Linked DNA regions of Homo sapiens. The protein of the gene in region 1 purifies or fractionates together with the protein of each later gene. This does not show direct contact. Each region holds a gene or a part of one and is shown on either strand. Other genes may lie near its edges.

What was found.
Region 2: the proteins of NUDT13 (region 1) and PLPBP purify together in Homo sapiens (affinity purification with mass spectrometry; one large-scale study listed by BioGRID and IntAct). This does not show direct contact.
Region 3: the proteins of NUDT13 (region 1) and CPT2 purify together in Homo sapiens (affinity purification with mass spectrometry; one large-scale study listed by BioGRID and IntAct). This does not show direct contact.

Annotation. Positions count from the first base shown.
Region 1 is NC_000010.11:73,108,941-73,112,765, reverse strand, and holds the start of NUDT13 (NAD(P)H pyrophosphatase NUDT13, mitochondrial), read right to left. Parts: upstream 2,312-3,825; 5' UTR 2,199-2,311; intron 1-2,198. UniProt on the Homo sapiens protein: NAD(P)H pyrophosphatase that hydrolyzes NADH into NMNH and AMP, and NADPH into NMNH and 2',5'-ADP. Has a marked preference for the reduced pyridine nucleotides.
Region 2 is NC_000008.11:37,761,064-37,764,888, reverse strand, and holds the start of PLPBP (pyridoxal phosphate homeostasis protein), read right to left. Parts: upstream 2,230-3,825; coding exon 2,131-2,229; exon of another isoform or gene 2,076-2,130; intron 1,963-2,075; exon of another isoform or gene 1,625-1,962; intron 1-1,624. UniProt on the Homo sapiens protein: Pyridoxal 5'-phosphate (PLP)-binding protein, which may be involved in intracellular homeostatic regulation of pyridoxal 5'-phosphate (PLP), the active form of vitamin B6.
Region 3 is NC_000001.11:53,203,324-53,206,823, reverse strand, and holds part of CPT2 (carnitine O-palmitoyltransferase 2, mitochondrial isoform 1 precursor), read right to left. Parts: intron 1-3,500. UniProt on the Homo sapiens protein: Involved in the intramitochondrial synthesis of acylcarnitines from accumulated acyl-CoA metabolites.

The DNA.
Region 1 (3,825 bases):
GTGTACAAAGTTTCAGTTAGGATGAATAAATTCTGGATATCTATTGTGTTGTATGGTAACTATAGTTCATAATATATTATATACTTGGAAATTACTAAGAAAGTAGATATTAAATATTCTCAACACACACAAAAAATGTGAGGTGATGAATATATTAATTTGCTAGATTTAATCATTTCACAATGTATACCTGTATCAAAACATCACATTGTAAACTATAAATATATACTTTTTTTGTCAAAAAGTATATATTATACTTTAATACCTTAATATTATACCTTAATAAAGCTGGAGAAAAAAACAGGTAACAGTTGGTTAACATGACCTAATTATTTATAAAAAAAAGGACACAGACATACCAATATACATAAATTATATGTATTTAATTATATTTTTCTTTCTATTTTTTTTTGAGACGGAGTTTCGCTCTTGTTGCCCGGGCTGGAGTGCAATGGCGCAATCTCGGCTCACCGCAACCTCCACCTCCCGGGTTCAAGCGATTCTCCTGCCTCAGCCTCTCGAGTAGTTGGGATTACAGGCATACGCCACCACGCCTAGCTAATTTTGTATTTTTTTTAGTAGAGATGGGGTTTCTCCATGTTGGTCAGGCTGGTCTCGAACTCCTGTTCTCAGGTGATCTGCCTGCCTGGGTCTCCCAAAGTGCTGGGATTACAGGCAAGAGCCACTGCCCCCGGCCTTATTTATATTTTTCAAATGACTAGAAGTATACATACCAAACTATTAAAGAGTGACTAATTTGGGGGAGTGGGATGAAGACAAATATTGAAAAAGGTGCCTGTAATTTTTATTTTGTTCATTTTTCTGTACTGAAAAAAAAATTAGCCATGTGTACTTATTCCTTTTAAGACAAAAGAAAAGCCTAATAAAATAGTAGTTCCTGAGACTAACTGGTTAATGAGGCTACCTCCATGCCACTGTTCCCCAAAACACCTCACCATATTCCATGAGCCAAAGGGAATTCATTTGGTGAGTTTCTTGGACCTTGGGAACTGCTGCCTGATGTTTTGCCTAGTTTCTGCTACTAAATTAACCTTAGCCAGTTGTAGATTATCATGGCTGCTGACTCATGAGCTGATGGTCACAGAGCTATTTATGTTTTTAAAAGTACAATGTTTGATAGAGATGAAAGGTAATAGCAGTCTTACCCAACTACTAAATGATGAGGCAAGGTGCTTTAACATTAAGAGTTTCTTTGAACTCCCCAACACAAATGATTCACACGTTTCTTATCCTGTTCATCTTTCCAGAAGAAAGATTATAAAGTACTACAGCGTGACAAAAAAGCCCATCTTGTAGTGAGCCGAGATCGCGCCACTGCACTCCAGCCTGGGCGACAGAGCGAGACTCCGTCTCAAAACAAAAAAACAAAACAAAACAAGACAAAACAAAAAAAGCCCATCTTGAATCTAGTGGTTACTTCCACCGTGAAGAGGCCAGGTTCCCTAGTATTTAAGAGACCTTTTTTTAGGCCGGGCGCGGTGGCTCACGTCTGTAATCCCAGCACTTTGGGAGGCCGAGGTGGGCGGATCACGAGGTCAGGAGATCGAGACCATCCTGGCTAACACGGTGAAACCCCGTCTCTGTTAAAAATACAAAAAAAAGTGGCTGGGCGTGGTGGCGGGCGCCTGTAGTCCCAGCTACTAGGGAGTATGAGGCAGGAGAATGGCATGAACCCAGGAGGCGGAGCTTGCAGTGAGTGGAGATCGTGTCACTGCACTCCAGCCTGGGCGACCAAGTGATACTTCGCCTGTGTTTAGAGTCCGTTTCTCCACGACTGTGGACCTCCATGGGACAGGGAAATATGGAAAACTGAGGAACCACGGGAATACAGCTTTGAAGGTCTCACTGACCTGCTTTATAGTTTGCTTTCTAAAAAATAATTTTCCCTCCTTTAAAAAAAAATAAAAATTAAGGCACAATGTGAGAGGTTGGCAAGTTCCATTTTTAAATGACTCTCCAAAAAAGTATCAGAAAATGATGAGCTGTGGTTACTGATGTAGCTCCACAGTTATGAGGCAAAACTATGGTTATATCCCTGGTTTCTGCAAAAAGGAAGAGATTAAGCTAAAATGTTAAAATGCTGTGACCACGACCTTTTTTCAAGTTCTGATCATGCCTCCCTGTGAAGTCCTTCCTGCACTTAGAAGCTGAGCAGGTTTCTGTTTCACTGTACTCACTCTGAATTCTTTTCGGGGCACCTTCCTAGTCCTCAGGAATCAGCACAAAAGAGGAAACTCCAAATGTTCACGTTCAACGGCTTCCGTTCCCTGGAGGGACCATTGCTGCTTCTGCCACACTTCCCAGAATCCTCCTAGAGATGCACTCTGGGAATTGTAGTTCAGTTCCCAGGCATGCTGCTGTGTTCTCCAGCTGCAAGTTAACCATGATTGTCAAAAGCATGAACATCTAAGATCTTATTACCAAGAGAACTACTGTATCCTTGGAGAAAGTAGGTTAGTATTAGATCCATTTTTTAATTAAAAAAAGATAAAGTCATTAAGTCCACCCTCATACACAGAAGGCATATATTATGAGGCTGGGGAGAGGATGAAGCAGGGGTGGGAATCAAATACCTTTTAACCTTAGTATATCTCTAGTTCTCTCTCTGCACACTTTAGAACTAGCTCTAAAATTTCATGAAGTTCTTCCAATTTAAAAGGATGGGACTCTGTATAGGTATGTATAGATATGTTTGAACTTATGGTAGGATTCATTTCTTGATCAGAGGAAGCGCATTCCATTTGACTGGAAGTAGTCTCCTAGAAGTGTGTCCGGAGTTGGTTCCTTCCAGTGGGTTCTTGGTCTTGCTGACTTCAAGAATGAAGCCGTGGAGCTTTCGGTGAGTGTTATAGCTCTTAAAGGTGGCACGAACCCAAAGAGTGAGCAGCAGCAAGATTTATTGTGAAGAGCGAGAGAACAAAGCTTCCACAGCGTGGAAGGGGACCCGAGTAGGTTGCCGCTGCTGTTGGGGGTGCCAGCTTTTATTCCCTTATTTGTCCCTGCCCACATCCTGCTGAATGGTCCATTTTACAGAGCACTGATTGGTCCATTTTATGGAGTGCTGATTGGTCCATTTGACAGAGTGCTGATTTGTGCATTTACAATCCTTTAGCTAGACACAGAGTGCTGATTGGTGCGTTTTTACAGAGTGCTGATTGGTGCGTTTACAATCCTTTAGCTAGACACAGTGCTGATTGGTGCATTTACAATCCTTTAGCTAGACACAGAGTGCTGATTGGTGTGTTTACAATCCTTTAGCTAGACACAGAGCACTGATTGGTGCATTTTTACAGAGTGCTGATTGGTGTGTTTACAATCCTTTAGCTGGAAACAGAGTGCTGATTGGTGCGTTTACAATCCTTTACCTAGACACAGAGCGCTGATTGGTGCATTTTTACAGAGTGCTGATTGGTGTGTTTACAATCCTTTAGCTGGACACAGAGTGCTGATTGGTGCATTTTTACAGTGTGCTGATTGGTGCATTTACAATTCTCTAACTAGACAGAAAAGTTCACCAAGTCCCCACTCCACCCAGGAAGTCCAGCTGGCTTCACCTCTCAGCAGAGCTACTTTGGTGCTGCTCTCTTCTCGTTTTACTACTGAAGTTACTTGCCTATGAGAGAAGACACTTTTTTTTTTTTTGAGATGGAGTTGCTCTGTCGCTCAGGTTGGAGAGCAGTGGTACGTACAATCTTGGCTTACTGAAACCTCCTCCTCCGGAGTCAAGTGATTCTCCTGCTTCAGCCTCCCGAGCAGCTGGGATAACAGGTGCACACCACCATGCCTGGCTAATTTTTGTATTTT
Region 2 (3,825 bases), on another chromosome or scaffold:
GAGAATTTCCTTTTTAACAATCTCTCCAGATGACTCTAAGACATACTAATGTTGGAGGCTTAAGAATCACTTCATTAATAGAAGGCTGCACTCTAAGTAAAAGAGAGGTCACTTCTGGCTTCTGAAACCCAAACGTTAGCAGTTTGGCGACTCATTCTAGTCCTGGTGTATCATTACACCATAATAACACTGCCCCATTTACTCTAAAAGTGGCCCACTTAGGTAACTAAGTAATTGATTGTTCAATCTGTGAATTAAGAACCAGTGGCATGGCCAGGTGAGCCACACGCCTGTAATCCCTGCACTGTGGGAGGCCGAGGTGGGTGGATCACCTGAAGTTACGAGTTCGAGACCAGCCTGGCCAAAAGGTGAAACCCCATCTCTATTAAAATACTAAAACTTAGCCAGGTGTGGTGGTGGGCATCTGTAATCCGAGCTACTTGGGAAGCTAAGGCAGGAGAATTGCTTGAATCCGGGAGGTGGAGGTTGCAGTGAGCTGAGGCTGTGCCATTGCACTCCAGCCTGGGTGACAGAGTGAGACTCCGTCTCAAAATAAAACAAAAAACAACAGTCTGGCCAACATAATGAAACCCTGTCTCTACTAAAAATACACAAAAAATTAGCCAGGTGTGGTGGTGTGTGCCTGTAATCCCAGCTACTCAGGAGGCTGAGGCAGGAGAATTGCGTGAACCCGGGAGGTGGAGGTTGCGGTGAGCCAAGATCGTGCCACTGCACTCCAGCCTGGGCGACAGAACGAGACTCTGTCTCAAACAAAACAAAACAAAACAAAACAACACAACAAAAAAAAAAAAAAAAAGAAAGAAAAGAACCAGTGGCAGAACTAAGGCTGCGACACAAAAAATTCTGGATTCAGGATCAGACCTATGTGACATCCTCTCACGACCACTATACAAAGAGCGGGGGTTCTATGCGTTCTGCTGCCACCCAATCCACATAGAAACAGTAAGAGAAGAGATTCGTTTATCCTTGCACGATTTAGTCTTCTTGTATCCATCATCCCCTGAAGTTTTCACAGAATCACAGTGTTCTCAAGGACGTGACGGAGTCAGATCAATTAGAAAAATGTCTCCTCTTCCTTCCTTCCACAGCGATGCGTAACCAGCCTCGTTTGAGTCCAAGTCGTGACTACTGGGAGTATGCTGATGATTGACGCTTTCCAGAGAGTTACCCGAACAGGCAGCCCATCTGCCTGAGAGTTTCCCTGAGAGAACCTCCAAGGTGATGTTTATTAGGGGAAGCCCTAGATTTTTCTTGGAGAATCACCGAGAATCACAGAATATTAACATCAGAAGAGATCTCAGAGCTTTCAGAGCTGAGGGCCGGAATAGTTACCTGACTTGTTCAAGGTAACGTCTAAGGAATAGTCAAAGAAAGACTATAATACAGGTCTTGTCTTCAGCCAGCATAAATGCTCGATCAGAGAAACCTGTGACCTCTCTGTTAAGGTCCGTCTCATTCCACACCATTCAGCTTAAACTTGCACTGAGGTGGGCAGATTTTGATTCTTGGTCTAATCAAAGTCCAAGAGGATGTAATATATATATACACAAAAGACGAAAGCTCCCCTTAACCGGCTTGGGATTGGACTTCTCCCTCCTGCCCCATAAACAAGTGCCGCTCTGATGCCAGCGAAGTCCGGCCAGTCCACCCTCACCTCGGCCTCCGGGCGGCACTGGCATTTCTTGGGCACTTAGCAGGTGAGACGCTGCCACACACGCGATCTCGGGCGTCTCTGGCCTCCGCGGGGTGCTCTTGTACCCCCGTCTCCCCTTACCATCCGTGGGCACAGGCCTGGCCCCCCTCGCATCCGCCAAGGCTATCGACCCCGAAACGACGCGGTGCGCAAGTGGCCACGACACCTAGGCACTAAGTCATTTTCCCGAGGTAGCGGTACCCTCTGCTCCAACGAAGCCAATCTCCAGAAAACCTAACAGACTCAAGGTAAGGAGGCTGGGGAAACCCTTCGCTAGCCTTTCGGTGGCCCTAGGCGGCCGACCAGTCCCGCCTCTCTGGGAGACCCCTCTGCGTCACCGTGACGACCCATTCCCACGCAGGTGTCCCTCTTCTCAAGGCGGCCGCCCACCGTCCCCACGCAGCCTCCTTCCTCACCCGCGGCCGCCGCGCCACAGCCTGCTGCACGCGCTCGTTCACCGCCCGCAATGCGCACCCGACTCCCAGCTCGGCCGACATGCTGCCAGCTCTCCACATCCCCCGGGGACCGACGCCGAGCCCCAGGCCCCCGGCAGCCCGTGGCTCACACCATCTTCCGGTTCCGCCCAGCTTGCGCCGTGTGAACCAATCATTGCTCATCATTGAGTCGTCTCACCCAATCAACACCCGTGCAGCGTGGAGGCCCGCCCCCAGGCGGCGGCCATCTTGGGGAGGTCACCCGCGAACCTGGAAATGGAGCCTAGGGGCTGAGGTTTTGCGCGCCTGGTTCCAAGGGCCACTCCCCGTGTGCTCTCCTCTTTCCTGCGCCTCAGCCGCTGCCGTCCCCCCACCCCCAAGGGACTTTTGTGAGGCAGAAACGCATCCTATACTCGGGGGATCCTGTTTCCTTTCAAAACGCCTTTCCAGGCTTGCCCGTTCCCGGCTTTCTGGGCGCGGGGACCAGAATTAGAAGCCACTGGGGCGGGAGCCAGGGCTTTTCTCTGTCAGATGGTTCTTGCGAGGAACCCCTAAGCGATACGAAAGGAAACTCTTCTTTCTTCTTTTCCCTAAAGACATGGCGTGATTCAAACGTATCGTGATTTTTGTCATCTTTCAGACCACTGCTGTCCAAGAGAAATATAACGCCATCCAACTGTGTAATTTGGAAGTTTCTCATAGGCACATAAGCTTAAAAATTTTAATGATATACTTTATTTAATCCAATATATCCAAAGTAAGATTTCAACATGCAATCAATAGAAAAACTAAATGCGATATTTTAATTCTTTTGAAAATCGTATGTGTTTCTGAAACCCGGTGTAGTGTTGACTTGCATATGTCTCAATTCGGGCCATCCCTATTTCGAGAGGTTAGCGGCCACCTGCGGCCAGTGCTGTCTCATCAGGGGACACAGGCAGCATGATTATTACTATTATTATTATTGAGACAGTCTCGCTCTGTCACCCAGGCTGGAGTGCGGTGGCCCGATCTGGGCTCACTGCAACCTCCACCTCCCGGGTTCAAGCGATTCTCCTGCCTCAGCCTCCCCAGTAGCTGGGACTACAGGTGCGAGCCACCGCGCCCAGCCCACAGGCAGCTTTAGATGGTCTAGCAGGAGCTCAGCACATTCAGTTAGATTCTTTTTTTGAGATGGGGTCTCGCTATGTTGCCCAGATTATCTGGGACTCGTGGGCCCAAGCAATCCTCCCACCTCCGCCTCACAGAATAGCTGGGACTACAAACGGGCACCACAACGCCCTGAGTTTGATTCTTGAGTCCCCTTCTGTGGGCAATATGGTTATAAACTTGATGAGGAGCCAGGCCATACAAATAATAATACAGAATGCTACATAGTCAGGTGGTGAAATAGTAGGTGCTACGGGCAAGGAGAAGGAGATCAATTTTGTTAAGGAAAGCACTCTTGGCTGCAATTTCTGTTGAAAGTTTCTCAAACATTAATTCAACTTAATGAAGTGGGATGCTATTATATTAGAGAAATGGCTAATGTTTGTTCTTCAGGTGGTCTTGTCTTGAGGTGATGGGGTTTATTAGAGCTTTCCGGAAAGAAGGGGCAATATTCTTACTCTCTCCTCTCACAGTTTTTCCCCAGACTCCCAGGAACAGAGATGGAATTTCACATCTTCTGCTCTGGGA
Region 3 (3,500 bases), on another chromosome or scaffold:
ATTAACTCAAAATTACAAGCCAAAGTCTCATCTGAGTAAAGGCAAGTTCCTTCTGCCTATGAGTCTGTAAAATCAAAAACCAATTAGTTATTTTCAAGATACACTGGTGTTACAAGCATTGGGTAAATGCTCCCATTCCAAAAGGGAGAAATTGGCCAAAACAGAGGGGCTACAGGCCCCACGCAAGCCTGAAATCCAGCAGGGCAGCCATTAAATCTTAAAGCTCCAAAATAATCTTTGACTCCATGTCTCACATCCAGGGCATGCTGATGTAAGAAGTGGGCTCCCAAGGCCTTTGGTAGCCCTGCCCCTGTGGCTCTGCAGAGTACAGCCCCATGGTTGCTTTTACAGGCTGGCATTGAATGCCTGTGGCTTTTCCAGGCACATGGTGCAAACTGTCGGTGGATCTACCATTCTGGGGTCTGAAGGGCAGTGGCCCTCTTCTCACAGTTCCACTAGGCTCCCCATTGGGAACTCTGTGTGGGGGCTCTAACCCCATATTTCCCATCTGCATTGCCCTAGTAGAGGATCTCCATGAGGGCTTCACCCCTGCAGCAGACTTCTGCCTGGACATCCAGGTGTTTCCATATAGCCTCTGAAATGTAGGAGGAGGTTGTCTCTTTTTTTTTTTTTTTTTTTTTGAAATGGAGTCTTGCTCTGTCACCCAGACTGGAGTGCAGTGGTGCTATCTTGGCTCACTGCAAGCTCTGCCTCCTGGGTTCACGCTATTCTCCTGCCTCAGCCTCCCCAGCAGCTGGGACACAGGTGCACGCCACCACACCCGGCTAATTTTTTTTGTATTTTTAATACAGACAGGGTTTCACCATGTTAGCCAGGATGGTCTCGATCTCCTGACCTTGTGATCCACCCGCCTTGGCCTCCCAAAGTGCTGGGATTACAGGCGTGAGCCACCGCACCCGGCCGGACGAGGTTTTCAAACCTCAACTCTTGTTTTCTGCACACCTGCATGCCCAACACCATGGGGAAGCCTCCAATGCTTGGGGCTTGCACCCTCTGAAGCAATGGCCAGAGCTGTGCCTTGGCCCCTTTTAGCCATGGCTGGAGCTGGAGTGCCTGGGACACAGGGCACCATGTCCCGAGGCTGCACAGAACAGCAGGGCCCAGGAAACCATTTTTCCCTCTTAGGCCTCTGGGCCTATGCTGGGAGGGGCTACTGTAAAGATCTCTGAAATGCCCTCAAGACATTCTCCCCATTGTCTTGGCTATTAACATTTGGCTTCTCATTACTTATGCAAATTTCTGCAGCTTGTGGCTTGAATTTCTCCCCAGAAAATGGGTTTTTCTTTTCTACTGCATGGTCAGGCTGCAAATTGTCCAAACTTTTATGCTCTGCTTCCCTTTTAAACATAAGTCCCACTTTCACATCATCTCTCTGTGAATGCATATGACCATATGCTTTCAGAAAAAGCCATCTTGAATGCTTTGTTGCTTAGAAGTTTCTTCTGTCAGACACCCTAAATCACCCCTCTCAAGTTCAAAGTTCTGCAGATCTCTAGGACAGGGACAAAATGCCACCAGTCTCTCTGCTAAAGCACAGTAGAGTGACCTTTGCTCCAGTTCCCAATAAGTTCCTCATCTCCATCTGAGACCACCTCAGCCTGGACTTCATTGTCCATATCTCTATCAGCATTTTGGTCAAAACCATTCAACTCTCTAAGAAGTTCCAAACTGTCTGACATCTTCCTGTCTTCTTCTGACCCCTCCAAACTGTTCCAACCTCTGCCTATTAACCAGTTCCAAAGTTGTTTCCACATTTTCAGGTATCTTTGTAGCAATGCCCCCCTCCTGGTACCAGTTTTCTATATTAGTCCATTTTCACACTGCTATAAAGAACCACCTGAGACTGGGTAATTTATAAAGAAAAGAGGTCTAATTGACTGACAGTTCCTTGTGGCTGGGGAGGCCTCAGGAAACTTACAATCACAGCGCAAGGTGAAGGGGAAGCAAGGCACATCTTATGTGGCAGCAGGAGAGAAAGCGAACAAGTGGGGGAACTGCTGAACACTTTTTAACTATCAGAGCTCGTGAGAAACCACTAACTATCATGAGAACAGCATGGGGAAAACTGCCCCCATGATCCAATCACCTCCCTCCAGGTCCCTCCTTCAACACGTGGGGATTACAATTCAAGATGAGATTTGGGTGGGGACATAGAGCCAAACCATATCAATCACATTAGAGCAAAGCCTGTAACTGACAAGCCTCACCCCCATCCACATAGCTTCCAAGAGCTTTTTAATATCTCACTCATATCGAAGACAACACAGGATTATGAAGCATCTGAAGAAAGAAAAGGGCAAAGCAAACAGAAGAAAAGCAACTTGGAGGCAACAGACTATGAAGAGAGAAGAGATCTTAAAAAAAAATTATCAGAGATAAACTATTTTTAAAAAGAACACCATAAGAAGAAAAAAGAGCTTGTGGAAGTAAAAAATAGGAAAGCAGGAGTTTTAAAAACAGGTTGAGAGATTAAAATTAAGTAAGTCTCCCAAGAAAATGTAACAAAAAGAGTAAGAGATGAAAAATGTGAGAGAAAAGAAAATTAGAGGATGAGACCCAGAAATTCTACACCTGAATAATAATAGAGTTCCACAAAGAAAAAACAGAGAAAAAAAATGGAGAGGAAGAAAGCCAAAGAAATAAAACAAGGAAATATCCCAGACCTGAAGGATGAGATTCCAGATTCAAAGGACTCACAGAGTGGCCCAACACATACTAAAACACATTACCTGAAATTTCAAAACACTGGGGACAAAGAGAAAATTCTAAAAAGCTTCCAAAGGCAGAGAGAAGAAGTAGTCAAAAGATTAAGTCTCAGAATAACATTAGATTTACCAACAGCAACACTGGATGCTAAAAGACAATGGAGCAAAGCCTCCAAAATTCTGTGGGAAAATAATTTCAAACCCAGCCAAACAAATTATCAATGAAGTATAAGGGCCATTTTAAAATTTTTGCTTCCCATATTCTGTTTCCAGATAGTACAGGGAATATGTGCTCTGATTTAAAAAAAAAAAAAAAGAAAAAGAAAAAGCCAAGAAATAAGAAAATATGAAAGACAAGAAACACGAGTCCCAACATGAGAGAGAGATGACAGATGCCCCAGCTGATGGTGAAAGAGCACAGGAGAGCAGCTTCACAGTAGGCCAAGAGGTTCACAAATCCAGACTACAGCATGTCGCAAGTTCTGGAAGAAGTTTCGTCAAGAAGACCAAAAGGGATAGAATGTCCAATCTGCTTTCATGTATTGAGAGGAGATTCAGACAGCTTGGGAAGAGTCTGGGGGTAAATTAGTAAGCACATAGAAAACTAAACAAGAGAAAAGATGGAACAATTATTAACTTCAGAGAAAACAAAAAGTTTGTACTGGAAAGGAAAAACAATCCCAATATGCTACATGAGTCAGCTGACAATAGTGTTTCTATGATCATAATAGCATAAAACTAGATACTGAGTTACCCAAAATTACAAATCCCTAT